4 linked regions of the Homo sapiens genome follow. The protein of the gene in region 3 purifies or fractionates together with the protein of the main gene of each other region. This does not show direct contact. Each region holds a gene or a part of one and is shown on either strand. Other genes may lie near its edges.

Region 1 (7,903 bases), on a different chromosome or scaffold from region 3:
CCATTAAGAAGGTAGCCTTCCAAAATTTTATTGTATTTTTTTTGAGACGGAGTCTTGCTCTGTTACCCAGGCTGGAGTGCAGTGGTGTGATCTCGGCTCACCGCAACCTCCATCTCCCAGGTTCAAGCAATTCTCCTGCCTCAGCCTCGCTAGTAGCTGGGACTACAGGCGTGTGCCACCACACCTGCCTAATTTTTGTATTTTTTAGTAGAGACGGGGTTTTGCCATGTTGGCCAGGCTGGTCTCGAACTCCTAACCTCAGGTGATCCGCCCACCTCCGCCTCCCAAAGTGCTGGGATTACAGGCGTGAGCCACCACGCCCGGTCTAGCCTTCCAAAATTTTAAAATCAAGCTTCCATATAGAATTTGATACATTTAAATACTCCCCAAATCATCAATCAAGTCACGGATCTTTCACAAAAGTCGCATACAGATTTTTTATTTTATTTTTTTTTTGAGACGGAGTCTCGCACTGTCGCCCAGTCTGGAGTGCAGTGGCACGATCTTGGCTCACTGAAGCCTCCACCTCCCTGGTTCAAGAGATTCTCCTGCCTCAGCCTGTTGAGTAGCTGGGACTATAGGCATGCGCCATCACGCCCGGCTAATTTTTGTATTTTTAGTAAAGACTGGGTTTCACCATATTGGTCAGTCTGGTCTTGAACTCTTGACCTCATGATCCACCCGCCTCAGCCTCCCAAAGTGCTGGGATTATAGGAGTGAGCCACCACGCGCAGCCCAGCATACAGATTTATGAGGTGAACCTTAGAGGCTCATTATCCCCTATCCTATGTTATGAACACAACTTTAAGAAGCAACACAGGGGCCAGGCTCACACTTGTAATCCCAGCACCTTGGGCGGCCGAGGCGAACACGAGGCCGATCACGAGGTCAGGAGTTCGAGACCGGCCTGGCCAACACAGTGAAACCCCATCTCTACTAAAAATACAAAAATTAGCTGGACATGGTGATGGGCGCCTATAATCCCAGCTACTCGGGAGGCTGAAGCAGGAGAATCGCTTGAACCGGGGAGGCGGAGGCTGCAGTGAGCCAAGATTGCGCCACTGCACTCCAGCCTGAGTGACAGAGGTAGACTCCGTCTGAAAAAAAAAAACGCAGCACAGGTCACAAGCTCATTGAGTGAGGCACTTCTAAATGTATCAGGGAAGACAGCCACTGACAGCTGACTTCGGGGTGGATTTGTACAATTTCAATCTGCAAGCTGCAGGACCTTTCTAAGTCTCCCTCTCATGTTAATATCAATAGCGTTGCCTAAACATTAAATGCTTTTTCTTCAACCCAGGTAATGGGGTCATTCATAAATTAAACTGAGAACAACCTTTCCAGTCCCATGTTCACAAACACTACATGTAGTAGAACCAAAGATACTAGGCAATTATTCTGAGATCAGATTAAAAAATAATTACTGTCATAAAAAAGTTACAGAATCATTTGTTCCAATGCCAAACTCTGCCTCAGCATATGAAATTTAAAGTAACCAAAAACTTAGTCTCACCTGGGAAGGGAAATCAAAGTGACATTTGAACCCAAGTTCAATGACAACACGTCCTTCAATTTCAAAGCGAGCGCATTGCTTTATTCATTCAAAGAGTTTTAACGGCACAATATCCCATAGCATACACAAAATCTCCTAAGGCGTACATTATGGTAAAGTTTCTGACTGCTTGTGAACTATATTTAGCCCTTTCTGCCAGCTCTCTCCGTAGTCTCCCACCCCCAAAAGGTATAACTGGAATAGGCCTCAGGGAGCACCTGTGGCCTGAAAAGGCTGTGACCAATCCTCAGAGCTTTACCGGCTGCAATCTACAAGTAGGCTCGACCATTCTATTTTGGATCAAGGAGACTCTGCCAACCCCCAAGTGACCGCAAGTGGACAAGATCAATTTGGGAGAAAACGCTGTGAGGGTTTTTTCGCCAAGCCAGCAGCCCCCACCGCCACACTCCGAAAAGGGTGAAGATTTGGTTACCATCCAGGCGGCGAAAGAATACGGCCGGGCTGTCTGGGGGCTCACGACTGCCTGTCGGCCGGCGATCCCGCAGCCTGGGCCGGGCTGTGGTGTCGGGAGCACGCGAAGAGGCAGGGATCCCCGGGGCATGCGGAGAGGGAACCAGAACGAGGTTAGGAGCCTGCAGGTGTCGCCCAGGGAGGGGACGAGGTCGCCCAGGGCTGGCACGGCCGAGTGAGACCGAGAGTGTGGCTCTGGACTCGGACAGACCGGTCACACTCTCGGGTTGTGACCTTGAGCACACGACTTGACCGCTGTGCGCCTTAGTTTCCTCCTCTCTAAAATGGGGGTCGTTCAAGCGGAAAACGCGCCTCGGAGCGCTTGGCACGGCGCCTGGCGCATAGTAAGCGCTCCCTCCATGTGAGCGCTCTGGCTCCTTTCGCCGCCGGGAGGAACTGGGGAAGCCCCGCGCGGGGAGTCCCCGGGAGGCGGATCCGAGGCTGGGGCAAGGGAACCGGGTCGGGGACTCACCGAGCACGTCCGCGGAACGGTGCCGGGCCACGAAGCACGCGTCGTCCCCGTAGCACGCGCCCTTCTTGAGGAGGCCCTTACGGAAGTCCTTCCCGAAGCCGCAGCCGGCCGTCACCAGTCCGTAGTCGCCGCCGCCGCCGCCGCCGGCCCTGGGGTCGGTCTGCGAGAGGCCGCCGAGCACGGCGCGGGCCACCAGCCGCCCGTACGAGAGGACCGAGAACATCGCCGCCGCCGCCCCCCCGAGGAGGCGGGGGGCCGGGGGAGCAGGAGGACGCGGAGGCCCGGAGCCGGCTCTCTCCTCAGCCGCAGTCGCGCCGCCGCTGGGGCGCTCCTCAGGGCGGCGCGCAGTGGCCGCCGCCGCCCCTGCCCGACGCGCGGGGCCTCGCACGCGCTCAGCCGCGCGCACCGGAGCCAGAGCGAGGTCAGAAGCGGCGGCTCCTCCGCCTCAGCCCAACTGAAGTCCCGGCTGCAGCGGCCGCCGCCGCCGCCGCCATCTTCCGCTCCACTAGCGTGTTCCGGGCGGTGCCGGCAGCACCGCCCCCTCCCTGGCCCTGCCCCTAGCCCCGCCCCGATTCACCGCTCAGGCCCAAGCCCAGCCCCTTGGGCTCGCTGCCTTATGCAGTCACCAAGGTTGAACATGCGCAGAGGGTGCGGACGCAGTGTCTCTTGGGAATTATAGTCCCGGAGTCGTAGTCACTTTTGACTTGGCTGCCAAAGATTTAGGACCTAGGGGGATTCCTCAGACGCGGGACCTATGTTAAGTTAGTAGGAATTGCAGGTGGGCCACGTGAGGGTTTTCTACCCTGTTTTAACCGTATCTTTTAAAGCCTGTTTTAAATAAATAACGCCACCATTCCTTTAAACAAAAACCTGCAAGAAACCAGAATGGAGTCACATAATGAGAAACAGAGGTACACAGATCTAGTGACACCTCCCCAAGTAATATACTGGAAGGATTTAGGGCGGCAAACTGTTTGGAAAGAAGAGACTTTTTGTAGTCTTTTAGGAAAAATTGAGAAAATGTTATGTGTCCCTATCAGAGTGGGAGGGGACACAGATGGTGTCATGTCCCTTTTGCTAACTGGCCTCTAGCCATGCTCACAGCTGTCTCAAGACCTTTGCCCTTGCTTTCGCTTCTACCCTTTGGAATGTAATTCGTTTACCTGAGGGTCCTGTGTTTTCTGTTGCTGTATCCCCAGAACACGTGAGCACCCAGTAAATATGTGAATGAATGAAAGAATGAATGAATATTTCACTAGATTCTAAGTTTCCCAAGGACAAGGATCATTTGCTGCTCAATTATTAGAATCTAAAGCAATGCCTGGCACACAGTAGGAGAGTGTGTAAATGTCTGTGGAATAAAAGAAGGAATAATGGGCTGGGCGTGGTGGCTCACACCTGTAATCCCAGCACTTTGGAAGGCCGAGGTGGGCAGATCACTTGAGGTCAGGAGTTCAACACCAGCCTGGCCAACATGGTCTCTACTGAAAATACAAAAAAAAATTAGCTGGGCTTGGTGACAAACGATTGTAATGCCAGCTACTCAGGAGGCTGAGACAGGAGAATCGCTTGAACCTGGGAGGCAGAGGTTGCAGTGAGCCGAGACAGCGCCACTGCATTCCAGCCTGGGAGACAGAGCTGGACTCCATCTCAAAAAAAAAAAAAGGAAGGAGTAATGGAATAAGAACACAAATGATAAAAGAAAGTCATGTTTGTTGAATACAGGAATGATTGAGTGAATGGGGTTCACAAACAACAGAAAATGAGCTTTGGGGCAAGTAATTCAATTTAGAGTAATTTTTAGTTTGATTGAAACATATATTTCTCAGAAACAGCAGTCTTTTTCTAGTTCACTTTTAACAAGACCATTGTTACTTTGGGGATTCCCACCTCGTTTTTAAATGGTCCTTTTTTATGCTTTCTTAATATATTTAAAATGCTGCCAACTATCAACTCAACACATATTATTCCGTTATCCTAATTACTGTCATCATTAAACACTTTTGCAGTTCACAGTGTGCCAAGTACTGTCTATATATATGTTTCTGTCTTTAAGAGCTTTCATCAAAATTGGACGGAAGAAATGACTTCACGTAGTGGCATTTTGTCAAATATACAGAACCCAGAAAATGTTCATTTACTGGATAAATGGTATAGTAATGACAATAATGCATTCACACCTTCCTTTTTTTTAATGGCACAAGAATTGGAGAGTGCCCAGAAGAGGGGGTAGTGCCTCTCGGAATCCTCTACTTGGCATTTATATTGCTGCCAGCTGTGCTAAAGGTAGCTCTTTCAAGTACACATACCACTACCAGATCCCAGTCAGTCTGGCAGGTAATTCTACCCCAAGGACAAACTTTTTAAAATAGCATGTCAACCCTATTTCTTGCCTCGTCAAACTCCTTCAGACTGCTCCTACTTTTCCTTTTCAGGGCATATATTACCTAATTTCCATGTCAGTCACAAGAACTGGTTTGATGGGATGAGTAGGAACCTAAAATGTGACTCTAAAGCCAGTAACTTCTGCTCCGATGGGGCTGCTGTTTTCATGATTAAGTGATACCAGTGCCTTGAGTTTCCGGCAAATGAATTTCCTGCAAGTGAGTTTCCTGCAAATGAGTTGCCCACAGAAGCACGTGGCGAACAGAATCCTTCTCAAAGCTCCTTTGCAAGTTTTAAAGGAACAGGAGATAGGGCCTCGGGTTCTCTTGAATCATTTATTCCAGAGCCAGCTCTGAAGTTTCATCACCATGGGGGAAGCCAGGAGAGGGTACTTTACAAAACACCTCCCTTCCCGTTCCTTCTCCCAGGAACACAATTCACGTTTGACATTTTGTTGGACTTAAAAAGGCCTGGATTTTCTTCCTTAACAGAGTTACATTCCTAGCACTTCAGGGATTCCTGAGAGGTCAGTTGCCACTCTTAAAGGTGAACAAGTGTGGTGAAAATACCATCTGGGCTCCCAGGGCACCTCTATGACATTAGGAAAGAGCTTTGCACTAAAGTCAGCCTCCGCTCCTAAAAAAACCAAACAAACAACAACAACAAAAAGAAGGCATGACATTTCCTAGTGAGATTTTCTGCCAGACTGGTAGGTTGATCTCTTTGGGTTCCTTTTTGCTAACCTATTCACAATGAGCACTAATTAGCTTACAGCAAGGTGTCTCAAGCTTGACACTATTGACATTTTGGGCAGGATGATTCTTTGCTGTTAGGGCTGTCCTGTGCATGCGTTGGAGGGGGCTTAGCAGCATCCCTGGCCTCTACCCACTAGAAGCCAGAAGCATGCCACCTCTGTGCCCCCAGGACAACCAAAACTGTCTCCAGATATTGCCAAATGTCCCCTGGGGGGCAAAATTGCTCCCTGATTTAGAGCCACTGTATTACGGCAATGCCATGCAAATGAGCAAATATTTGTTGAGCACTTATTATGTTCAAGTCTCTAGGCTAAGGATAAAAAAAATCAGTGATTTTGTGGCAGTCACAGTGCAGTAGGAAGGTTAAAATTAAGTAAATGTATTAAAATAATAATAACAGACTGGGTGCGGTGGCTAATGCCTGTAATCCCAGCACTTTGGGAGGCCGAGTGGGGGGTGGATCACTTGAGGTCAGAAGTTCGAGACCAGCCTGGCCAACATGGCGAAACCCTGGGTCTACTAAAAATACAAAAATTAGCTGGGAATGGTGGTGCACGCCTGTGATCCCAGCTAGTTGGGAGGCTAAGGCAGGAGAATCACTTGAACCCGGGAAGTAGAGGTTGCAATAGGCCAAGATCACGCCACTGCACTCCAGCTGGGGCAACAGAGCAAGGCTCTGGCTCAAAGTAAATAAATAAAATAATAATAAGCACCACAAGCTGAAATAAAGGAGGGGTCTGGGAAGGGGAAATGAGACCCTCTGGGGTTAGAGAACACCTGGGGCACTTCACAAAGACATGACATTTGTGAGAGGCCTGAACGGACAGACAAGTCTCTCTGTCTGTCATGCGGCATAACCAGCTCAAGAGGAGGAAAAGGATATTCAATGAATGCAGAATGTGATTGGAGAAGAGCAATGCAACCTTAGGATCTGAAAAACGAATAATAATAAATGGTGGGGCTGGGCCAGGTGCAGTGGCTCACGCCTGTAATCCAAGCACTTAGGGAGGCCAAGGCGGGTGGATCACTTGAGGTCAGGGGTTCCAGACCAGCCTGGCCAACATGGTGAAACCCCATCTCTACTAAAAATACAAAAATTAGCCGGGCGGTAGTGGCGTGCACCTGTAATCCCAGCTACTCGGGAGGCTGAGGCAAGAGAATCACTTGAGCCTGGGAGGCGGAGGTTGCGGTGAGCCAAGATCATGCCACTGCACTCCAGTCTAGGTGACAGAGTGAGACCCTGTCTCAAAAAAAAAAATGGTGAGGCTAAGAGCTGGGCAAGCTGGCAAGTGCCTGTAGTCCCAGTTACCTGGGAGGCTAAGGTTATAGAGTGTCAGGATGGAGCCTGTGAATTGCTACTGCACTCCACCCTGGACAATGTAGTGAGACCCCATTTCTAAAACAAACAAAAGCAGTATTTTAAGGAGTCAGACACAAAATACCACATACTGTATGATTCCATTTATATGAAATGTCCAGAATAGGCAAATCCATAGAGACAGAAAGTAGATTAGTGGTTGCCAGGGACTTGGGGAAGGGACAAATGGGGAGTGACTGCTCATGGGTACAGGGTTTCTATTTGGAGTGGTGAAAATATTCTGGAAGTAGATAGTGGCAATGGTTGCACAAGTTTATAAATATATGAATAATCGCTGAACTATACACTTTAAAAAGGTGAATATGGCCGGGCATGGTGGCTCATGCCTGTAATCCCAGCACTTTGGGAGGCCGGGGCAGGAGGATTGCTCGAGTCCAGGAGTTCAAGACCAGCCTGGGCAACATAGTGAGACCTCTTCTCAATAAAAAATCAAAAAATTCCTGTAATCCCAGCACTTTGGGAGGCTGAGGCGGGCAGATCACGAGATCAGGAGATCGAGACCATCCTGGCCAACATGGTGAAAACCCGTCTCTACTAAAAAATACAGAAAAAATTAGCTAAGCATGGTGGCCCGTGCCTGTAATCCCAGCTACTAGGGAGGCTGAGGCAGGAGAATCACTTGAACCAGGGAATCAGAGGTTGCAGTGAGCCAAGATTGCGCCACGGCACTCCAGCCTGGCGACAAAGCGAGATTCCATCTAAAAAAAAAATTTGGCTGAGTATACTGGTGCACATCTACAGTCCCAGCTACTTGAGAGGCTGAGGTGGGAGGATTGCTTGAGCATGGGAGGTCAAGACTGCAGTGAACTGTGATCGTGCCACTGCACTTCAGCTTAGGCAGCACAAGTGAGACCCTGTCTCAAAAAACGGGGTGGGGGGATGAATATTAT
Region 2 (7,022 bases), on a different chromosome or scaffold from region 3:
CCCTAGTGCTTTGCCCAGTGCCTGCCAAAGAGCTGGCTCTCAAAATGTTTCTCTCAAATGGAGTCTAAAAATTCTTTTTTTTTGGCCTACCTTTCCCAATGGAGTCTAAAAATTCTTTAAAGTGCCTTACCTTGTAAATCTTCCATCAATTCAAACATTCCAGGATAGTTAACTTGAATTTCATCAGTGTCCTATTTAAAAAGAAAAAGAAATATTCATTTGACATTCATGATACAAAATTCCAGATTTAAAAAAGAGGCCGCAGAGACTACCCAGACCAATCTCCCATGCTAAGCAAAAAATATTTACAATATTCTTCATAGATGTCATCTGGCTTATGTTTGATTTATGAAAGTCTCTAATTGCTGATTAAATATCCTGCATTGTGAGAGAAATCATCCTAAAACTCCATCATTGGTTCTAGTTCTCTCTTTGGGAACCACACAGAATAAGAGTATTCTGTACCCTACAAACCATTGCCCTCTCCTCCAAGTCTTTGAAAACCTTCAGGACACAAAAATCTGGAGATCCTTACATGTTCTGACTACATGTCCCTGGACAGTGTCAATATCAATCTTTCTTAAAATGGGGCACCTAGAATCAAAATATTTCATTCTATATCTAGTAATGCAGCCAATAGGCTTGTTTAGGAAATGAGCACATTGCTGATACATGTGGAGTTTGTTTCTCAAATGAACAATTGGGTAATGACTTCCTCTTCTTTTTGAAGCCTGATACAGGACTTAACTGTTGGTACAGTGGCAGAGACCACTGATGCTCCCCAAATATCCAGGTGCTCCTTGACACTTCCCAATCTCAAACACATATTTCTTTTGGCCAAAGAAAGGAGGGGCAAGACAGTTAAGAGCTAGAGCCTTTTCCAGGCCATCTCTTTTGCTGTGGTGATCTTATAGAACACAGGGCCAGATTATAGAACACAGGGCCAGATGGCACAGCTACAAGATGGAGATGGGCTGTCCCACCAGCACGCAGCTGTGATGTGATAAAACTTTATTGTGTTAGGCACTAAAAGTAGGGGTTTATTCTTATTGGAAACTAGCCTAAAATAATTTTTTTTTTTTTTAAGACGGATTCTTGCTGTGTTGCCCAGGCTGGAATGCAGTGGTGTGATCTCTGCTCGTTGCAGCCTCTGCCTCCTGAACTCAAGCGATTCTTGTGCCTCAGCCTCCCGAGTAGCTGGGATTACAGGCGCCTGCCACCGTGCCCAGCTAATTTTTTTTTTTTGTATTTTTAGTAGAGACGGGCTTTCACCGTGTTAGCCAGGCTGGTCTCGATCTCCTAACCTTGTGATCCACCAGCCTCAGCCTCCCAAAGTGCTGGGATTCCAAGTGTGGGCCATGGCGCCTGGCTGGAAACTAGCCTAAAATAAATCTAAACATCATTAATAGAGGACTGGTTAAACAAATTAAAGAATATGTATTCTATAAAATACTGTACAGTTCTCAAAAAATAAGGTAGATACATGTCTATAGGAAAAAAATCTCCAAGACATGTTATTGACTGGAAAAAAAAAAGCAAAAGAGTGCATGTAATATTATATAAGTAAGTTTAAATGACATAAGTGTATTCTATGGGTCTATAAAAAAAAGTGGATCTGAAACGATGTCTAAGACACAGCTAACAAATCTTTGGGGAAAGGGACCAGGGTTTGAGAAGTCAGGAGGAGGGACAGGCACGATGGCTCATGCCTGTAATCCCAGCACTTTGGGAGGCCGAGGCAGGCAGATCATGAGGTCAGGAGATCGAGACCATTCTGGCTAACATGGTGAAACCCCATCTCTACTAAAAATACAAAAAATTAGCCAGGCATGGTGGTTGGTGCCTGTAGTCCCAGCTACTTGGGAGCCTGAGGCAGCATAATCGCTTGAACCCGGGAGGCAGAGGTTGCAGTGAGCCGAGATCACGCCACGGCACTCCAACCTGGGTGAAAGAGCAAGACTCCATCTCAAAAAAAAAAAAAAAAATTGCTGGGTGTGATGGCACATGCCCTTGGTCCCAGCTATTTGGGAGGCAGAGGCATGAGAATCCCTTGAACCTGGGAGGCAGAGGTTGCAGTAAGCGGAGATCTCGCCACTGCACTCTAGCCTGGGCAACAGAGGGAGAAGTCAGGAAGAGGAGACTTCGTTTCACTTTACACCCCACTGTATCACTCTCTCTATATATACCTTACTCTTCTTTAAAAAAACATATACGTGTATCAGGTTGTGTATGCTTTTTAATGAGACCTCTAGGTAGTGAGACCATGAACATTCATCATCCATATACTTTTCCATATTAACAAGCTGTTTTTAAGAGGAGATCCTAAGATTAAAAACAAAATTCTTTCCAGGCTGTTATCTAGCCATTAAGCAATATCCTTTGAAAACAATTCTTCAGTGCAACCAACTAAAAGCACTATCTCCACTTCAATCAAAAGAATGCCACAACAGCTTTGTTGAAGGCCTTATTTAAATTAAAAGGGGACCATATCTGCACCATTTTTTTTATTTTATTTTTGAGACGGAGTCTCACTTTGCCACCCAGCGCCCAGGCTGGAGTGCAGTGGTGCGATCTCGGCTCACTGCAACCTCCGCCTCCCAGGTTCAAGCTATTCTACTGCCTCAGCCTCCCAAGTAGCTGGGACTACAGGCCATGTGCCACCACGCCCAGCTAATTTTTTTGTATTTTCAGCAGAGACGGGGTTTCACTGTGTTAGTCAAGATGGTCTTGATCTCCTGACCTTGTGATCTGCCTGCCTTGGCCTCCCAAAGTGTTAGGATTAGAGGCGTGAGCCACCGTGCCAGGCCTTGCACCATTCTCTTAAAGTACTAGTCTGGTAGTTCAGTTCTAAAACGGAAATCAGCTTTACTTAGAATGCTCATTCTCTGAAAATAATTCATTAAGATGAAAATACATTAAGATGTAAATACATCTATATGATACTAATCTGACTCGATTTCACTTTAAAAATAAAAATCCATTGTAGCGTAAAAGTAATATATCTAATGTATGCAACATAAACCTGTATAGCTGATTATACAAAAGCTTTTTTGGATGGGAATTTTTAGAAAATGAATTAGAACACATATTATTATTATTTTTTTTGGAGACAGGATCTTGCTCTGTCACACAGGCTGGAGTGCAGTGGTGAGATCATGGCTCACTGCAGCCTCAACGTCCCAGGCTCAATCCTTCCAACTCAGCCTCCCGAGTAGCTGGGACTACAGGCAGGCCCAGCTATTTAAAAAAATTTTTTTTTAGAGATGAGGACTCCCTATGTTGCCCAGGCTGGTCTTGAAATCCCAGGCTGAAGTGATTCTCTGACCTAGGCCTCCCAAAGTGCTGAGATTATGGGAGTGAACAACTGTGCCTGGCCAGGACGCAATATTAATACAGCACCTCAGAAACAAAACTGTATACATGCCTCACAGGATAAATGTAATGATTCAAGAAGACATTCTCATAACTTTCTTATTAAATCAGCAACTTTCTAATTGTATAAACTAAAGAAGATTCTACACCAATATTTTTATATTATATTAAAGTATGAGTCATTAGGCTCATTTTTAGAGAATATGGATAGTATTCTGAATTATATTTCCCAATTAATAGAAATGTAGGCTTTTAAACATTTTAACATCAGGTTAAACATTTTTAGTAGAAATCTTTCTAAAACTCATTCTTTATAACCACAGAAAACCATGTGTAGTTCACATAATTTAACTTTCTTCTGGTGATTAGCAGAAATCCCATTTTTTTCGTAATGGGCAATAACTTTTGAGTCCTGTAATATTGCTGACTAACCTGTATGACCTCGTATAAATTTTTTAACATCACCTCATGAAAATGTGCACTACACATCGCCACACCATCCCAGCCCTACACCTCCTATACTTTTTAGAGGCTTTACATTCCCGGAGATTCTTTTTTCATCTCAATGATAGGTTGGTGACACAGCAATATAGGAGACGATTCTCAAGAGGGTAGACTGTAAAGGAAATTTTTTCCATATTATAAGTAAAATAAATATTATCAAAAAGGCTTTAAATCACTGGTTCCTAATCTATTTTTAGTTATATTAGCTCTCTCAAGATCTGATGAAAACCATGGGTACTTTCCTCCATTTATGAACACCACCACCACAAATTTTGTGTACAACATCCCAGTATTATTGAACGGTCTAAAGTTTACCAACAGGCCTGCTATAAACCCAAAAACACCACGCAGGGATTTCTGTTTTGTTCACTGCTATATTTGAAGTACCTAGGATAGTACCAGACACACAGAAGGTACTCAGTAAATGTTTGTTGCAAGACTGAATACATAAATGAATTTGTATAGAAGGATATTCACTGCAGCATTGCTACTATTGGCAAAAAATCAGAACAAACCTAAAGGTCATTCACAGGTAAATAGTTAAGTAAAACTGTGGTACATTCATACTAGGAAATAATATGCGGAAATTAAGGAGTGCAAATATATCCATACCAATTTAGAAAACTATTAACAGTATATTGGAAATACATATACTGTTAATAAAAAAAGTTTCAGAAATGTGTGAATACATATGACTGTCTATATAAAGTAGTCCTTGTTAAAAAAAAAAAAGTCTGGAAGGTTACACACTAAAGTGATAATAGTAGCTACCTCTAGGACAGTAGTTCTCCAAGTGTGGTTTGGAGAGTCCTGGGGTCCCTAGGACTTTTTTGGGGGTCCACAAAGTCAAAATTATTTTCATAATAATACCAAGATACTATTTGGCTTTTTACCTCTTATTCTACGATGGGTTATTTTAGAGGAGACATGACATGACACATGGTGTAACAAGAAACTTGAATGCAGAAACAGACATGAGAATCTAGCTCTGTTACTAAGGTGCACATTAACTGGCAAAAATGTGAAGCAATGTCATTCTTCCCTTTCAATTATTTTTGTTTTAGAAAATATGGCCAGACGCAGCGGCTCATGCCTGTAATCCCAGCACTTTGGGAGGCTGAGGTGGGCGGATCACTTGAGGTCAAGAGTTCGAGACCAGACTGGCCAACATGGTGAAACCCCATCTCTACTAAAAATACAAAAATTAATGGGGCGTGGTGGCACGTGCCTGTAATCCCAGCTGCTCGGGAGGCTGAGGCAGGGGAATCACTTGAACCTGGGAGGGAGAGATTGTGGTGGGCCAAGACCGTGCCATTGCACTTCAGCCTGGGTGGCAGAGTGAAACTGTCCCCCCCCCAAAAAAAAAATTAAAAGAAAATATAGTTATTTTTTATTAAAAAGGGTCATTTATGTTAACAAGTAATAGGTATATTATTGTTAGCTTTAAATGAATACGAAAACAAATTCAGTTTTAATGTCTAATATAGTGAATACTGACAGATGTTAATTCACTATACAAAAAGCCCTTTAAAAGTTTCTTCATTACTTTTCAGTGTGTAGTGGGGTCCTGAGACCAAAATTTTGAGAACTCTTACTCTCAAGAGAGAGCTAAGCATTTTTAGGATTAAGGGGGAATGACAGACTTTCGCTTTATCTGTATAGCTTAATAGTTACAACCAAAATATATTTGTGTTACTTATACAATTACAAATATAAATACAATGATCCTTCAGTGTACAATTGCCTGTATTAATAGTGTTTATTTTCATTACAAAGTAGAGCACTCATGTGAAGCGGTTTTCCGCTTTCTAGCCGAGCAACCTCTCAGGATGCAGTTTCTATGGACTCAGGCCATTTAAAAGTTAACAAAAGATCAACACTAGTCACAGGTGTGAAGCCTCCGGGGTTCTCTTCAGTTCCCAGCCTAGTCCTCCAGCCTGTTAATTCTTCCCTCCCTGGAGGCTCCTTTCCAACATCAGGGGCCCTGCTTGCCCATGCCCCTTGCTTCTATAAAAACAAGGAAGGATATGACACAATCTATTTTTGGTTGGTTGATTTCATGAATATATTCACACAAAATCATGCCAAACAGCTATTTTAGCGTTTAAGCTTATCATCTCTAATTATGTAGCAAGATGCTTTCTTCATCAAGAAATTCCTATTTCCACTAATCAGGTTTAGGGATGTTTCTAGGCCTGAGGGGTTTGGAAATTCATATTAAGTCTACTGGACTGATCTCTGAAGAGAGTAATGACATCCTTTAGAAAGACTGTTAGTGGAGGGAGGAAGAAGAGGGCAATCATTCTCTCCAGATGGCTGTCTCTTGGAAGCCTAGTTCTAGAAAAATGCTGGGAGTAGAGTGATGGGGAAAGAGGAAGGCAGGAGCTAATGTAAGCTGAGCATCTACCATGGTCCTGGTACTTCACACCCTTTATCTCTTTAAAGGGTGAGGTGAGTAACATTTGCTTTTTTTTTTTTTTTTTTTGAGACGGGAATTTCACTCTTGTTGCCCAGGCTGGAGTGCAATGGCGTGATCTCAGCTCACTGCAACCTCCGCCTCCCGGGTTCAAGCAATTCTCCTGCCTCAGCCTCCAGAGTAGCTGGGATTACAGGCATGCATCACCACAATTCGCTGATTTTTTGTATTTTTAGTAGAGACGGGGTTTCACTACGTTGGCCAAGTTGGTTTCAAACTCCTGATCTCAGATGATCCACTTGCCTCGGCCTCCCAAAGTGCTGGGATTACAGGCGTGAGCCACCGCACCCAGCCACACATTTGCATTTTTAAAAGAAATAAATGCTCAAAAAGGTAAGTTACTCAAATTTCCCTATCTAGTAAAGAAATAGGGTAAGGATCCAAGTTACTCCTGTCGGAGAACAAAGTCCTACTGTCCTACCCCGTCACCGTACCATGCTGACTTCATGCTTATTACTCACTGATTGCCCATGGGTCTTCTTTCGAGATTTCTCTAGCCCTAATGGAGTACAGCACCCTGTCCTACCTTCTTTAGCCTTGATCTCACCCTAGGCCTTGAGAACACACATTCTCTCATTTCTGCTTCATATGGCACTGTTTGGGGGTAGTTATTGGTGGTAATATTACAGGTTCCCCTACTTATCCCCTTTTCTTCCTATCATCTGGAATA
Region 3 (7,588 bases):
GTTGCCCCGGCTGGTCTCAAACTTCTGGGCTCAAATGATCCTCCTGCCTCAGCCTCCCAAAATATTGAGATTACAAGTGTGAGCCACTGCACTCTGCCTCTGGTCATATTTTTAATACTAAGATGGAATTATGTAATTCTAACAGGGAGATCAGTTTTTAAACATCAGTGAAGGTATTCCCTCAAGCATTTCAAAGTTGTAGAAGTTGAAGTAAAACTATCTCCAGCCATTACTTGGAAGCTATAAAGAGAAGTCAACACCTAACAAATTTAGTACTTAAATTCCTCCTTAGAGTGGAACAATGTGACTTTTATCTGTAACAAATGGAAAGGCAGAAAGTATACTAAATATGCATATTTATAACTTCATGAAATGTAACTAATCTCTCCTGATTTTGTCTAATGGGGAGAAAGGAGACACGGGGAAGCAAGATAAAATTACGAAAGTCTTTTAGTTTTCTTCAAGAGCTTATGATACCATGGCCAGGAGCGGTCGTTCTCACCTGTAATCCCAGCACCCTCAAGGGAGGATCCCTTGAGCCTAGAGAAGTTTGAGACCAGTCTGGGCAAGTTAGGGCGACCCCAACTCTACAAAAAAAATTTTTGATTAGCTAGGCATAGTGGCATGCACCTGTGGTCCCAGCTACTCAGGAGGTTGAGGTGCGAGGATTGTTGGAGCCTGGGAGGTTCAGGCTACAGTAAGAGGTGATTGAGCCACTGCACTCTAGCCTGGGTGACATAGCAAGACCTTGTCTTTAAACAAAAAAAGCTTATTATACCTCAGTAGCCTAAGTTTCTGAGGAAAGTTTTTTTAGTCCCTGGGTAGACCGTTTAAAATACAGACTGGATTCCTACTAAGAACCTTCTAATGGTCCTTCACTACAAATGGAATAAAATACTCAAACCACACCTCATACGGGGTCCCTCATCTGACCCATTGAGGCCACAACAGAAACTCTGCAGCATTCCTCCCTTTGCAAGAACAATTCTCTTCCTAGATCTGTTTACAAGGCAAGCTCTTCCTTATTTAGGTTTCCTATCAAGTGTACCTCCTTGGAGACCATCTCTCCTCACCTGACATAAAGTATGCTCATACCCCAGGTCACCCAAAACAATGTCATTGTTAATATATTTGTCTTCATGACACTTAACACTACTGGAAATGACCTTATTCTTTCATTTACTTGTTTGTTCTTTGTCACCCCTTCTAGAATGTAAGGTCTATGTTGAGGGTGAGGACTGCAGTTCAACACTATACTTCCCTAAACAGTGCCTTGAGTATGGAAGGCAGTCAATTTGCTGAATAAATAACGAATGAATCCTGATCTGGAGAAAGGAGGAGGAGTTGTGTTACACAGGAACATTCTACTCAAGGACTGTGACTAAGGATTGAAATAATCTGCTAGCAATAGATGATTAGCATAAGCTTCAAACTAGGGCTGGGCGCGGTGGCTCCCGCCTGTAATCCCAGCACTGGGAGGCCGAGGTGGGCGGATCACTTGAGGCCACGAGTTGAAGACCAGCCTGGGCAATAAGGCGAAACCCCGTCTCTACAAAAATTAGCCCGGGGTGGTGGTGCATGCCTGTAGTCCCAGGTACTCAGGAGGCTGTGGTGGGAGAATCGCTTGAACCCGGGAGGCAGAGGTTGCAGGGAGCCAAGATCGCAACACTGCACTCCAGCCTGGATGACAGAGTGAGAACTTGTCTTAAAAAAAAGACTGAAACTAGGCTTTAGGCAGTTAACTTTTTAATAAAGAATAGTCATTTTATGTTTGGTGTTGAATGTTAGCTATTGTAATATAAAACTCTATTTCTTCCCTAAAAGGGGAAAAGCACCGTAATGTACCTATTGTTAATATACTCTTGTAACATGATTATTGAATATTAAAATATCATCATAGTAGTACTAAAAAATTGTTCCCTAAGAGTTCAACATTCTCTTGAGTCCTGAAGTTATAAACTTAAGAGTAATGGGGAACAAAATTAGTACTTATTATGTACGTAGTGAGTTCACATCACCCTAACAGAAAGTTGAGCTATTATCCACATTTTACAAATAAGGGACTCGAGACTCCTAAGTTAAAATTAAAATCTAGCCGTTCCCTAATGCTAATTTTCATCATGATATGTAAAAGTTATAACCATTGGTTTATTTTAAAAGCCTGAGTACAATAAAAAATCCAAACGTTCTGAGATGTCTTTGAATACATTAATCAGGACTGAGTACTGCATCTGTCTTTGCCCCTCCTGAAACCAATACACACCTTATCTCCATCGCATTACCTTTGGGAATGTTATGGCAGTCCCTCTTTTCATCAATACTACATAGTCTTCCAAGGCTGGCCTCCTCAGCATGTACTGCTTACCGAAGGAACTCCTCAGTATCTGGCCGGGGAACTTCCCCACGATCTTGCCGAACGGGACTGCCCCCCAGTTACTATTTAAGAGTCCGAAGTTGTTCAACCTAAATAATTTCTTAAATTTTGTTTCTCCCTCCCCAGTCTCAGCTAAAATCAGTTCCCCAGCCTGAAAGGGTCTCTCTCTGGAAGTTGAACAAGAAGGGGAGACGTGACGCTCTTCGACCTCGGTAGCGGACTGGGCCTGCGAGAGCATCGAAGGATCCTCGGATCCCTGGTGTGTGGGACCGCACCGGCCCTGGTCTCCGCTCGAGTCCTCGAGCTCTCGAGGGGATGACTCTTCCCGCAGCGTCGGCAGTCTGAGGTTTTCCAGTGACGAAAGACATCCAGTCCCAATGTCCGAGATGCTCAGAGGGAGAGATGGGCAAGACTCTGCTCCTGGGGCTTTCCTTTGTGCCGCCTCGTGCTCTCTTTCTCCATCTCGCAGGTCTCTAGGCGAGGACCTGCAACACAGTGACCGAGCTCCCTCGAAGGGCTCCTGCCCCAGGCCGTGCAGGAATGAATTGGTTCCGAGCCCCTGCCGCAGGCACAGCAAGACAGGACCGCGGCACCATGCCATTAGCATAGTGTTTCGCGAAGGCGCCGTCGCAGACGAGTGACGCAAGCCTAGCGCGACCCCTTCTTTCCCAGTCGCGCGCATGGCGCAGCAGCCCGATGGCTCTGCAGCTGCGTGGGGCTCTACAGCTCCGCGACTGCGCCTGCGTCGGGGAGGGGGCGGTGCGCTAGGTCAAGCTAGGGCGCGGGAGCAGCGGAGTCCTGGTTGAGTGACCATCCAAGGAATATGTCCTCGCGCGCGGCCGCCGTTTTCCTTTTCGGAATGTGGGTAAAGAATTTACCGCTAACAGACGACCTCCAGGTTCGCTCTTGGACAGCAAGATTGAGAGACAAAACTTAACAAAGCGCTGTGCAAACTGAAATCCCAGGCTTAGCTCGCTTGTGTCTTGAACACGGAAGTCACCTAGTCACCCACAAGATGTATGAGTACAGCTAACCCCCAGATGCATTTGACAGACGGCGTGGGACGCGCCACTTGCTGATTGGCTCTCCTTTCCCAGTTGACCGCGACATCCCCCAGCCCCAACTCCCTTTTGATGGGGCTGTGACCACCTGCCGGTCCCCTCACCCACCCCTCACGCCCGGAGAGTCCGAGGTTGATTCGAGTACTCACTATGTGCTTATGTAACACATGTTTTCATTATTAAAATATAACTAGTTTACCCTCCCAAAACGAAATAGAAGTGTCTTAAAATGGAAACAGGTATCTTTGGAGGCCAGAGTTATTTAGCGTTAAATATCACTAGCCTCCCAGCATTTTGGGAAGCCGACCGAGGCAAGCGGCTCATTTGAGGTCAGGAGTTCGGGACCAGCCTGGCAAATGTGGTGAAACCCCGTCTCTACTAAAAATACAAAAATTAGCTGGGCGTGGAGGCACGCACCTGTAATCCCAGCTACTCGGGAGGCTGAGGCAGGAGAAGCGCTTGAACCCGGGAGGCAGACGTTGCAGTGAGCTGAGATCTCGGCACTGCACTCCAGCCTGGGCGACTGAGCAAAACTCCTCTCGGGGGAAAAAAATTAGTCGGGCGCGATGGTGCACGCCTGTAATACCAGCTACAAGGGAGGCTGAGGCATGAGAATAGCTTGAACCCAGGAGGCGGAGGTTGCAGCGGGCCAAGATCGAGCTACCACTGCACTCCAGCCTGCGCGACACAGCAAAACTCTGTCTCAAAAAAAAAAGAAAAATCGCTAGCCTCTTTGCTGGATATTAGTTGACTGGGCAAAAGTTTATTGAGAGTCTGGCAATACGAGGCACGTTAGACACTCATTTAAGTTTCCAACAATTCTGTGTTAGAAACAAATCCATTTTATGAGTAAAAGAACTGGCCCAGGGAGATTAAATAATTTGGGGAAACCAGGAGTGGTGGCTCACACCTGTAACCCCAACACTTTGGGAGACCCAGGCCAGAGGATTGCTTGAGCCCAGGATTTCAAGACCCACGTGCAACATAATAATAATAAGTTGGTCAAGATGCATAGCTGACAAGTGGCATTGCAGAGTTTCCTATTTAGTCAGTCTGGTTCAGCAGCCCATGCTCTTTGTACTGTAACACCGTTTGGAAAGACTGGTCAACAGCACAGTTGAACTTAAAGTCCAAGTATATTCAAAGGGCTGTGAAGTCAATGTGAATTCTGTTTAAATTTGATGAAATAAATCTTGTTATTCTTTTTTTTTTTTTTTATTTGAGACAGAGTCTTGCTCTTGTTGCCCAGGCTGGAGTGCAATGACACGATCTTGGCTCACTGCAACCTCTGCCTCCTGGGTTCAAGCGATTCTCCTGCCTCAGCCTCCCGAGTAGCTGGGGTTACAGGCACCTGCCACCATGCCAGGCTAATTTTTGTATTTTTAGTAGAGACTCGGTTTCACCATGTTGGCCAGGCTGGTCTCGAACTCCTGACCTCATGATCCACCCGCCTCGGCCTCCCAAAGTGCTGGGATTACAGGCATGAGCCACCGCGCCTGGCCGTTATTACTTTCTAAGACATAAATTAATACTTTCTAATCAGTACTTTCTAGGACATCAGCCACCATAAACTCCATCAACAGGATTTCTCCCTTCTTTTTTTCCTTTTTTTTTCTTTGTGAGACAGAGTCTCACTCTCGCCCAGGCTGGAGTGCAGTTGTATGATCTCGGCTCACTGCAATGTCTGCCTCCCAGGTTCAAGCAATTCTCCTGCCTCAGCCTCCCAGATAGCTGGGATTACAGGTGTGCACCACCATACCCAGCTAATTTTTGTATTTTTAGTAGAGACGGGGTTTCGCCATGTTGGCCACGCTGGTTTGAACTCTTGACCTCAGGTGATCCACCCACCTCAGTCTCCCAAAGAGCTGGAATTACAGCCATGAGCCACTGCACCCAGCCAAATTTCTCCCTTCTAATTCTAAAAATGAATAAAGAAACTGCTCTCTCCACACCCCAACTGCGTGTCTCACTTTGTGTAGTTTGCTTTTTAGGAAAAGTTATGACCAATAGTTTCTGGAGTCGTAGGCTTTTCTCACTACTTTTTCTTGTGATAGGCTTTCTAAGACAAAAACTCATTTTTGGTTATAAAATTCTTGAAATTAAGGAGATTATCATTGCCAAACATGGGTCTGAGCCGGAACCTCCTGAACTCTAAGCCCTATGGTGGTTTTAAAAGTTATCATACCTACTTTATTATTTCTTGAGTATTATCAAATGATACTTGGCTGTTATTTCAGAATAAGCAGGAATTGGAAAAAAAGAAAATACACTAACAAAATATGGGAAGTAAATTTACATATCTTTGATTTTTAAAACAAATTGTAAATGGAAAATGGCATCACTTTCTTTCCATTGTTTAAATAACAGCCACAATGTTATACGTATTTTGTTTTATACACATCTAATGAAATACATTAGTACATTTTGGAAAATAATATTATTTATTCATGATCTTTCAGAGCATTGAAATTCTTAAAAAAGAAGTCACTATGTGGGCCTTTCTATTTCTGGCTATCCTTTACTTCTGCTTTCCCTATGAAATTGTCAGCCTGCACTCTGAAACTATTATCTTGATGATGAATTTGTGATACATCGTCAACTTATCATGTTTACTTACTTAATTTATTTACTGAGACGGAACTTTGCTCTTGTCACCCAGTCTGGAGTACAATAGCACGATCTCAGCTCACTGCAACCTCTGCCTCCTGGGTTCAGGTGATTCTCCTGCCTCAGCCTCCTGAGTAGCTAGGATTACAGGCCTGTGCCACCACGCCTGGCTAATTTTTTGTATTTTTAGTAGAGACTGTGTTTCACCATGTTGGCCAGGCTGGTCTTGAACTCTTGACCTCAGGTGATCCACCCACCTCGGCCTCCCAAAATGCTGGGATTACAGGCGTAAGCTACCGCGCCCAGCCCATGTTTACATTATAAGGCTAAGAAAAATACTGTTTTCTAGTGACATTTAGTTAAGCATTTACTTTAAAATCTGAATAGTTCTCAATAAATACCATGGCTGATGGCTGGCATTTTAAAATCTCCAAACAGGCAACCAGTTCTAGTTCCACAGGTGATCTCCTCCAGCTCTTTGCACATGCTTCTTCACTCTATTTTGTGTAGTTTTCCCTTGTCCTCCAGCTATCAACCTCACAGTACCACTGGAATGGTGGCTTTGTACCAATCCCAAAAGACCTAGAGTAGTGCCTTTCACTTCTGCTCCCAGTGGGTCCTGCCTGTTTTTGTTTTTATTTTAGAAATAGGGTCTTGCTCTGTCACCCAGGGTGGAGTGCAGTGGTGCCATCATAGCCTACTGCAGCATCGAACTCCTGGGCTCAAGCAATTGCCCTGATTCAGCTTCCAGCGTAGCTGGGACTACAGGCATGTGCCACCAATGCATGGCAATTTTTTTTTTTTTTTTAAAGACAGAGTCTTGCTCTTGTCGCCCAGGCTGGAGTGCAATGGCGCAATCTCAGCTCACTGCAACCTCCCCATTCTGGGTTCAAGCGATTCTCCTGCCTCAGCCTCCCAAGTAGCTGGGATTACAGGCACCCACCACCATGCCCAGCAAATTTTTGTATTTTTAGTAGAGATGGGGTTTTACCATGTTGGCCAGGCTGGTCTCGAACTCCTGACTTCAGGTGATCCACCTGCCTCAGCCTCCCAAAGTGCTAGGAATACATGCGTGAGCCAATGTTTTTTGTTTTTTTTTGTTTTTTTGTTTTGTTTGTTTGTTTGTTTTGTTTTGTTTTGTTTTGTTTTGTTTTGTTTTACAGGGTTTCACTCCCATCACCCAGGCTGGACTGCAGTAGCATTCTCTTGACTCACTACAAGGTCTGCCTCCCGGGTTCAAGTGATCCTCCTGCCTCAGCCTCCCGAGTAACTGGGATTACAAGCTCATGCCACCACCCCTGGCTAATTTTTCTATTTTTAGTAGAGACGGGGTTTCACCATGTTGGCAGGCTGGTCTTAAACTCCTGACCTCAAGTGATCCACCTGCCTTGGCCTTCCAAAGTGCTGGGATTACAGGTGTGAGCCACGCGGTTGGCCATAATTTAAAAAAAATTTTTTGTAGATGCAGGGTCTTACTATGTTGACCAGGGCAGTCTCAATTCCTAGCCTCAAGCAATCCTCCCTCCTCAGCCTCCCAAAATGCTGG
Region 4 (7,022 bases), on a different chromosome or scaffold from region 3:
TCCCTTAACACACTCTATTTCCTTCATTATAGCACGTGTTATAATCACCGGTTTACTTGTCTTTACCTTTCACTGTACTGTGCATTCTATAAGGGAAGAAATTGCATCTGTTTTGTTCTCTGTATAATCCCAAGTGCCTGGCACATTGTAGGTGTGCATAAATATTTTTTAAATGACTCAGTAAAAAAAAAAGTCAGGTTTGTAAACTCTTCTAAAAAGTTGTAAGCAAAAACAGTTCTTACCCCCGTAGTAAATTATTAAAATAGCCTTATAATGTTGTGTTTTACATTTCCCTAGGACATAATGCATTTGACTCTTGATTAATCATGCCATTTGGAATTTTTCTGTTGTGTCTGTCTTCCTGTAGTAAAGTGTAAGCAATTTGAATTCAGGAACTATATATTGCATCTTATTTAGCTTTGCATTTCCAAGTCCAGTACAATGTCTGACTTTAGGAGTGCTCAACAGCTGCCTATTGAATTATTATTAAATATTTCCTTAATACGCTACTTTGGTGAACAGTTTCATTTCCCTTTATGTTCTTCTGTCCTGGTTGTGATATTGAATTATTAATTTTTTATTTTTATTTTTTTTGAGACGGCGTCTCACTCTGTCACCAGGCTGGAGTGCAGTGGTGCAATCTCAGCTCACTGCAACCTCCGCCTCCCGGGTTCAAGCGATTCTCCTGCCTCAGCCTCCCAAGTAACTGGGCAGGCACGCGCCACCATGCCCAGCTAATTTTTGTATTTTTAATAGAGACGGGGTTTCGCTGTGTTGGCCAGGATGGTCTTGATCTCTTGACCTCGTGATCCACCTGCCTCAGTCTCCCAAAGTGCTGGGATTACAGGCATGAGCCACTGCACCTGGCCTAATTTTTTATTTTATTTATTATTATTTTTGAGACAAGTTCTTGCTCTGTTGCCCAGGCTGGAGTGTGGTGGCATGATCTTGGCTCACTGCAGTCTTGACCTCCTGGGCTCAAGTGGTCCTCCTTCCTCAGCCTCCCAAGTAGCTGGGACTACAGGCATTCACCACCACAGCCAACTAATTATTTTGATTTTTAGTAGACAAAGTCTCAATGCATTGCCCAGTATGGTCTTGAACTCCTGGGCTCCAGTGATCCTTCTGCTTTGGACTCCCAAAATGTTGGGATTACAGGCATGAGTCACTGCACCTGGCTGAATTATTTTTAAAATCAAGGAAAGACCTATTTTAGTCAAATAATTGCATTAAGACTTAGACTACACGTATAGTTGTTCAACCAGGATGTATTTGAGAATGAAAATGGTGTTATTAATAATTGCCTTGAATCACTAGAGGTGAATTGGGTGTCACCTCAGGCAAATTGGTACAGATGGTCCCCATAGAACTAGGTGTCTTTAGTATTGTTCATAGATGAATTTAGAATTGCTTCAAATATAAAATATATAAAACTGATAATTCCATAAGCATGCCTTTTTAAAATTGGAGGTTTAAAGCCTTATGCTTAATTTACTAGTCTAGCTGGGTGTGGTGGCTCACACCTGTAATCCTAGCATTCTGGGAGACTGAGACAGGAGGATTGCTTCAGCCCAGGAGTTTAAGACCATCCTGGGCAAAAAAGTGAGACCCTGTCTTTATTTTATTATTATTATTATTATTTGAGATGGGATTACAGGTGTGAGCCACTGCACCCAGCCAACCCTGTCTTTGAAGAAAATTAAAAAATATAATTTACTAGTCTAATAGTCTGTTTCTAGAAAAAAAATTTAGAATTCTAGCTTGAAAAATTATTTCTTCTCCTCTTTCCTGTTGCCTGTTAATCCATCTATTCAGCAACTTCACAGTGTTTTTAGCCTTCTCCTCAGAGCCATTCAATTACTATTATATTAATCATATACTGCCTATGGTACTTTTGTTGCTTTTTTTCTTTTTCTACTATTAATTACCTCAGTCAGGAGCCTGTTGCTTTGTGTCTCAAATACTATACAGTACTCTCCCCTTCTTATCTGTGGTCTCAGTTAGCCATGATCTACTGTAGTCTGAAAATAGGTGAGCACAGTACAGTAAGATATTTTGAGAGAGAGACCACATTCACAAAACCTTTATTACAGTATATTATTATAATTTTTCTATTTTATTATCAGTTATTATTATTACTGTCTTACTGTGTCTGATTTATAAATTAAACTTTATCATAGGTATGTATATATAGGAAAAACACGGTATATGTAGAATATGTAGGATTCAGTACTGTCCATGGTTTTAGGCACCCACCGGGGGATCTTGAACGTGTCCACTGCACATAAGGAGATAAGAGAGGAATACGGTAATAGTTATTTTTTTAAAAAAATCCTTTTTTGATAATTTTGGTATGTAATAGTTTCTTGACTTCTCCCTTTCTCTCCAGATTTTATCTGTTATAATCTATTCAATAAACCACTACTAATTTCCTAATCCTTTTTCTTCAATAACCCATAATGTATGAGTTCAAACTCCTTATACTGACATTATAGTCATCAACCATTTCCTCCTTGAGCTGTTTCCATTGCTCTCTTTTATACCTTTGGTCAAGCCAAATCAAGCCGCTCAATGTCCCAGCAGATATGCTAAGTCAATTTCTGCTGTAGTTTATTTATGCTGTTTCCTCTGCCTTAAAAGTGCCCTTCTGCTCTTTTATTATGTATGCTTATTATGCACAGTGCAGCTTAAATCTTCCTCCAAGAAGCCTTCCCAGGTCACACTAACGTGAAAAAAAAGCCCACCAGACCCCTCTACTTAAACTCCTTTTTTTTTTTTTTTTTTTTTGAGATAGAATTTTGCTCTTGTTGCCTAGGCTGGAGTGCAATGAGATTACAGCTATGAACCACTGTGCCCGGCCTGCTTAAACTCCTTTATCACGTACTGCCTATGTCTCTTTTTTTTTTTTTTCGTAAACCTATGGACTATATTAAAGAAGCCTATGCCTCTTATTACAAAAAGTTAGAGCATGCATGTCCATGCTTGAGTGTGTTTGTATGTGTGTTTATTTTCTCACATACGTTGTAAACTCTTTGAAATTAGGGATTATTTCTCCTATTTCTAGGGTCTTTGACATCAAATTTATTTAGCTTCAGAGCTCGATTGTTCCACTTATTTGCTGTGTGACCTTGGACAAATTACTTCACCTTTCCCATCAGTTTCCCGTGTGTTGAAGAGGGCTAACGTGTATGTTCCACAGGGAAATTGTAAATGTAAAGATGATGTCTGGGCCGGGCACCATGGCTCATGGCCTGTAATCCTAGTACTTTGAGAGGCCAAGGTGGGCGGATTGCCTGAGCTGAGGAGGTCGAGAGCACCCTGGGCAACATAATGAAACCCCGTCTCTACTAAAATACACACAAAAAAAGTTTAGCTGGACATGATGGCACATGCCTGTAGTCCCAGCTACTTGGGAGGCTGAGGCACGAGAATCGCATGAACCTGGGAGGCGGAGGTTGCAGTAAGCTGAGATCGTGCCACTGCACTCCAGCCTGGGTGACAGAGTGAAACTCCATCTCAAAAAAAAAAGAAAAAAAGATGATGTCTAAAAAGGCTATTTTTCTTTTTTTCTTTCTTTTTTTTTTTTTTTTGGAGACAAGGTCTCTCTGTCACCTAGGCTGAAGTGCAGTGGTGTGATCTTGGCTCATTGCAACCTCCGCCTCCCAGGTTCAAGTGATTCTTGTGCCTCAGCCTCCCAAGTAGCTGGGACTACGTGTGCCACCATGTCCAGCTGATTTTTGTATTTTTAGTAGAGAGGGGGTCTCGTCATGTTGACCAGGCTGGTCTCAAACTCTTGACCTCAAGCAATCCACTCACCTCAGCCTCCCAAAGTGATGGGATTACAGGCCAGAGCCACCATGCCTGGCCTGTCTGAAAAGAAAGTACTCAGCACATGGGAGGCACTCAATAAATGTTAAGCGTGGTGGTTTATGCTGCCCCGACCCATGAATAGTTCAATACGAGTTGTGTTGTTGTTGAAGGTAAGACCTTCTAGTAGTTTAATTTTCTTTCAAATGTTTTACAAATATGAACAATTTTATTTAAATTAAGGTGAATCTATATACTTCAAAACTTTCCTTTATTGTCCCTAAGTTTTATGTCTGATGAAACAGAGGTTGATTCACTCCTTTGATTTTATTGTTGACCAAGAGTCAGGATTATGGGAGCTGAAGGAGAAAGCAAGGACAAACAAAATGGAAATGTTTGGGAAAGAGAATTCTTTTATTGTCTTCTGGTTTTAAGTTATCAATTTTAATTATTTTAGTTAGGCTTTATATTTCCTGAATATTAATGTTAGTAAAAATAAAATGTTGATATTATAAAGACTAGTCGATTTAGGGTGATCTCTAAAGTTAAGATGAATGATTTAAGATTATTTATGTTTTAGGAAAGGGATCTTCAGTTTTTCTTTGCCTTCAGAAATCAGTAATAGTTTGAAATTTAAAGTAAAAAAATAAGAATTTAAATGTATTGTTCTTGTCAGTAAACCAAACTTTTACTTTTATATTTGCTATCAGAAAAAAACAAAAATTCTAGTTTATAAATATGTATTAAAACATGACTGTACTATATGATGTTTATTATAACATAGCCTTTAAAAGTTAAGAGCTAATCACCACTAATGTACATGATTTTTTTTTTTAAGTAAAAGTGACTCTGTTACATACATGAAAAAGTTTCACTTATCAGTATTCTTATACTAAGAAGGTTAGAAATTTCTGCAGAGAAGTAAGCTCAGGGCTTTAAAATTAAATAAGTAAATAAATTCTGTAGTTTATGTTTACAGTATGATGTAGTTAAGTATTAATAGCATTGAAATTTTTTTTTTTTTGAGATGGAGTCTTGCTCTGTCACCAGGCTGGAGTGCAGTGGCTCGATCCCGGCTCACTGCAACCTCTGCCTCCCGCATTCAAGCGATTCTCCTGCCTCAGCCTCCCAAGTAGCTGGGACTACAGGCGCATGCCACCAAGCCCAGCTAATTCTTTTGTATTGTTAGTAGAGACAGGGTTTCACCATATCGGCCAGGCTGGTCTCTTTAACTCCCTACCTCGTGATCTGCCCACCTTGGCCTCCCAAAGTGCTGGGATTACAGGCGTGAGCCACCGCGCCTGGCCTAATGGCATTGAAATATTAACTTTCCAAATAAGATATTATGGCCTGGCATGGTGGCTCGCACCTGTAATTCTAGCACTTTGGGAGGCTGAGGTGGGAGGATTGCTTGAGCTCAGGACTTCAAGTCCAGCCTGGGCAACATACTGAGACCTTGTCTCTACAAATAATAAACAAAATTAATTGGGTGGGGTAGCATGCGCCTGTGGTCCCAGATACTTGGAAGGCTGAGGCAGGAGGACCCCTTGAGCCTAGAAGGTCAAGGCTTCAGTGAACTGTGATCGCACCACTGCACTCCAGCCTGGGCAACAGAGTGAGACCATGTCTCAAATACACACACACACACACACACACACACACACACACACACACACAATACCTTTCAGACACTTAGGTTTTGATATATAGAGTTGAATACATTTGGGCCTACTTATTTCTATAAGAGATTTTAAAATAATATTATACTAAGGTACTATGTAAAATAGTTAATTCTAAAGAGTCATCTATAAGTTACTATAAGTAAACTTTGGGGTATCATACTATACAAGTTTTTCATTGTTTTTAGATGCTAACTATTACTTTAGAATTCTTTAGTAGTTTTAGTTCAGGAAGTCCAATGACTTAAGCATACCTATAAGCTGATGTATTTATACAGAATACACTGTTAAAATGTCTTTACTTTCAGAAGGAATTTTGGGTAAGGATCATAAATGTAACAAATCTAAATCTAAGGATATAATATTTCTATTGTGACAATGGTTCTACTTTTAGAATGGAATTGAAATTCAATTTATACTTAGAGATAAGCCGGTATGGTTGTTTATAAATGCTTTTACTTTTTGTTTTCTCATCTGTAGATTTGTGTTCGCTATTTTCAAACATGTGGTAATGTTCATGTTTTGAAGCCAAATTATGTGTGTTTCTTTGGTTATCCTTCATTCAAGTATAGTCATCCACATCACTTCCTGAAAACAACTGCTGGTAAGTATGATTTCAAAATAACGTGTATAAAATAATGTTTTGTACCTCATTCAGTAATATTTTTTAGTAGTTGATTGAGACTTTTTAAACAAAAAAAAGTTGACTCTGTATTTCTAGCCGGGCCCTTCCCATCTCCCCACATTTTTCCAGTTCTCACTTTCTTTTTTCTCATCCCTCTCTTTTACATACTTTCCTTAACACTGGCACCCCTTTTTAAAAAAAATTTTTTTTTAGAGACAGGATCTCACTCAGTTGCCCAGATTGGAGTGCAGTGGTGTAATCACAGCTCACTATAACCTGAACTCCTGGGCTCAAGTGATCCTTCTGCCTCAGCTTCTCAAAGAGCTGGGATTACAGGCATTAACTTATCTCGCCCAGCACTTGTGTCTTTATAATATTGGGAATGGGTTGTGTTGGGCCATCTATTTATCATCTGGCTCATCTAAGTGCAATAGTCAGCATTGATATGACTTTCTCAGTCAAGGTAAATTGTTGACTTAATAGAGGTGTCTTTGTGTTGGCATACACATTGTGGTATTGTTTGTTGAAAGAAGCACTTAATCTGTCAAGTGAACATGGTGTGATGAAACCAGCCTGATTTAGTACTAAATAGAAAGTTCCCTGACTTTCACCATTTACTTACTTTTTCCCCAGCTTTTTCTACCCTCTGTAAAGAACTTGAAGGATTAAGTATTAGATTTGGCAAGGGCACAAGAACTGTTTTTTTTCCTGATGTTCTATTTAGAACCCTGATAAAGAACCCTAGACTTTTGTTACACTATTAAGTTTTTGACAGATACATGGGAGCTTAGTTTGTGCTGGGAATGAAAAATGGGGGAATTCCAGGCAGACCCCAAGTCAGCCTTTCCATGCTCTTTTTTTTTTTTTTTTTTTTTTTTTTTTTTTTTTGAGCTCTGTTGCTCAGGCTGGAG

What was found.
Region 1: the proteins of TRMT61B (region 3) and PPTC7 purify together in Homo sapiens (affinity purification with mass spectrometry; 3 studies listed by BioGRID and IntAct, with this or other methods). This does not show direct contact.
Region 2: the proteins of TRMT61B (region 3) and NDUFAF5 purify together in Homo sapiens (co-immunoprecipitation; 3 studies listed by BioGRID and IntAct, with this or other methods). This does not show direct contact.
Region 4: the proteins of TRMT61B (region 3) and DBT purify together in Homo sapiens (co-immunoprecipitation; 3 studies listed by BioGRID and IntAct, with this or other methods). This does not show direct contact.

The regions. Positions count from the first base shown.
Region 1 is NC_000012.12:110,580,314-110,588,216, forward strand, and holds the start of PPTC7 (protein phosphatase PTC7 homolog), read right to left. Parts: upstream 3,006-7,903; 5' UTR 2,719-3,005; coding exon 2,496-2,718; intron 1-2,495. UniProt on the Homo sapiens protein: Protein phosphatase that plays an essential role in mitochondrial metabolism and biogenesis. Positively regulates biosynthesis of the ubiquinone, coenzyme Q. Dephosphorylates the ubiquinone biosynthesis protein COQ7 which is likely to lead to its activation.
Region 2 is NC_000020.11:13,802,011-13,809,032, reverse strand, and holds part of NDUFAF5 (arginine-hydroxylase NDUFAF5, mitochondrial), read right to left. Parts: intron 5,884-7,022; coding exon of another isoform or gene 5,701-5,883; exon of another isoform or gene 5,617-5,700; intron 192-5,616; coding exon 131-191; intron 1-130. UniProt on the Homo sapiens protein: Arginine hydroxylase that mediates hydroxylation of 'Arg-111' of NDUFS7 and is involved in the assembly of mitochondrial NADH:ubiquinone oxidoreductase complex (complex I, MT-ND1) at early stages. May also have methyltransferase activity.
Region 3 is NC_000002.12:28,867,297-28,874,884, forward strand, and holds the start of TRMT61B (tRNA (adenine(58)-N(1))-methyltransferase, mitochondrial precursor), read right to left. Parts: upstream 3,014-7,588; 5' UTR 2,982-3,013; coding exon 2,283-2,981; exon of another isoform or gene 2,264-2,282; intron 1-2,263.
Region 4 is NC_000001.11:100,239,829-100,246,850, reverse strand, and holds part of DBT (lipoamide acyltransferase component of branched-chain alpha-keto acid dehydrogenase complex, mitochondrial isoform 1 precursor), read left to right. Parts: intron 1-2,248; exon of another isoform or gene 2,249-2,308; intron 2,309-5,966; coding exon 5,967-6,090; intron 6,091-7,022. UniProt on the Homo sapiens protein: The branched-chain alpha-keto dehydrogenase complex catalyzes the overall conversion of alpha-keto acids to acyl-CoA and CO(2).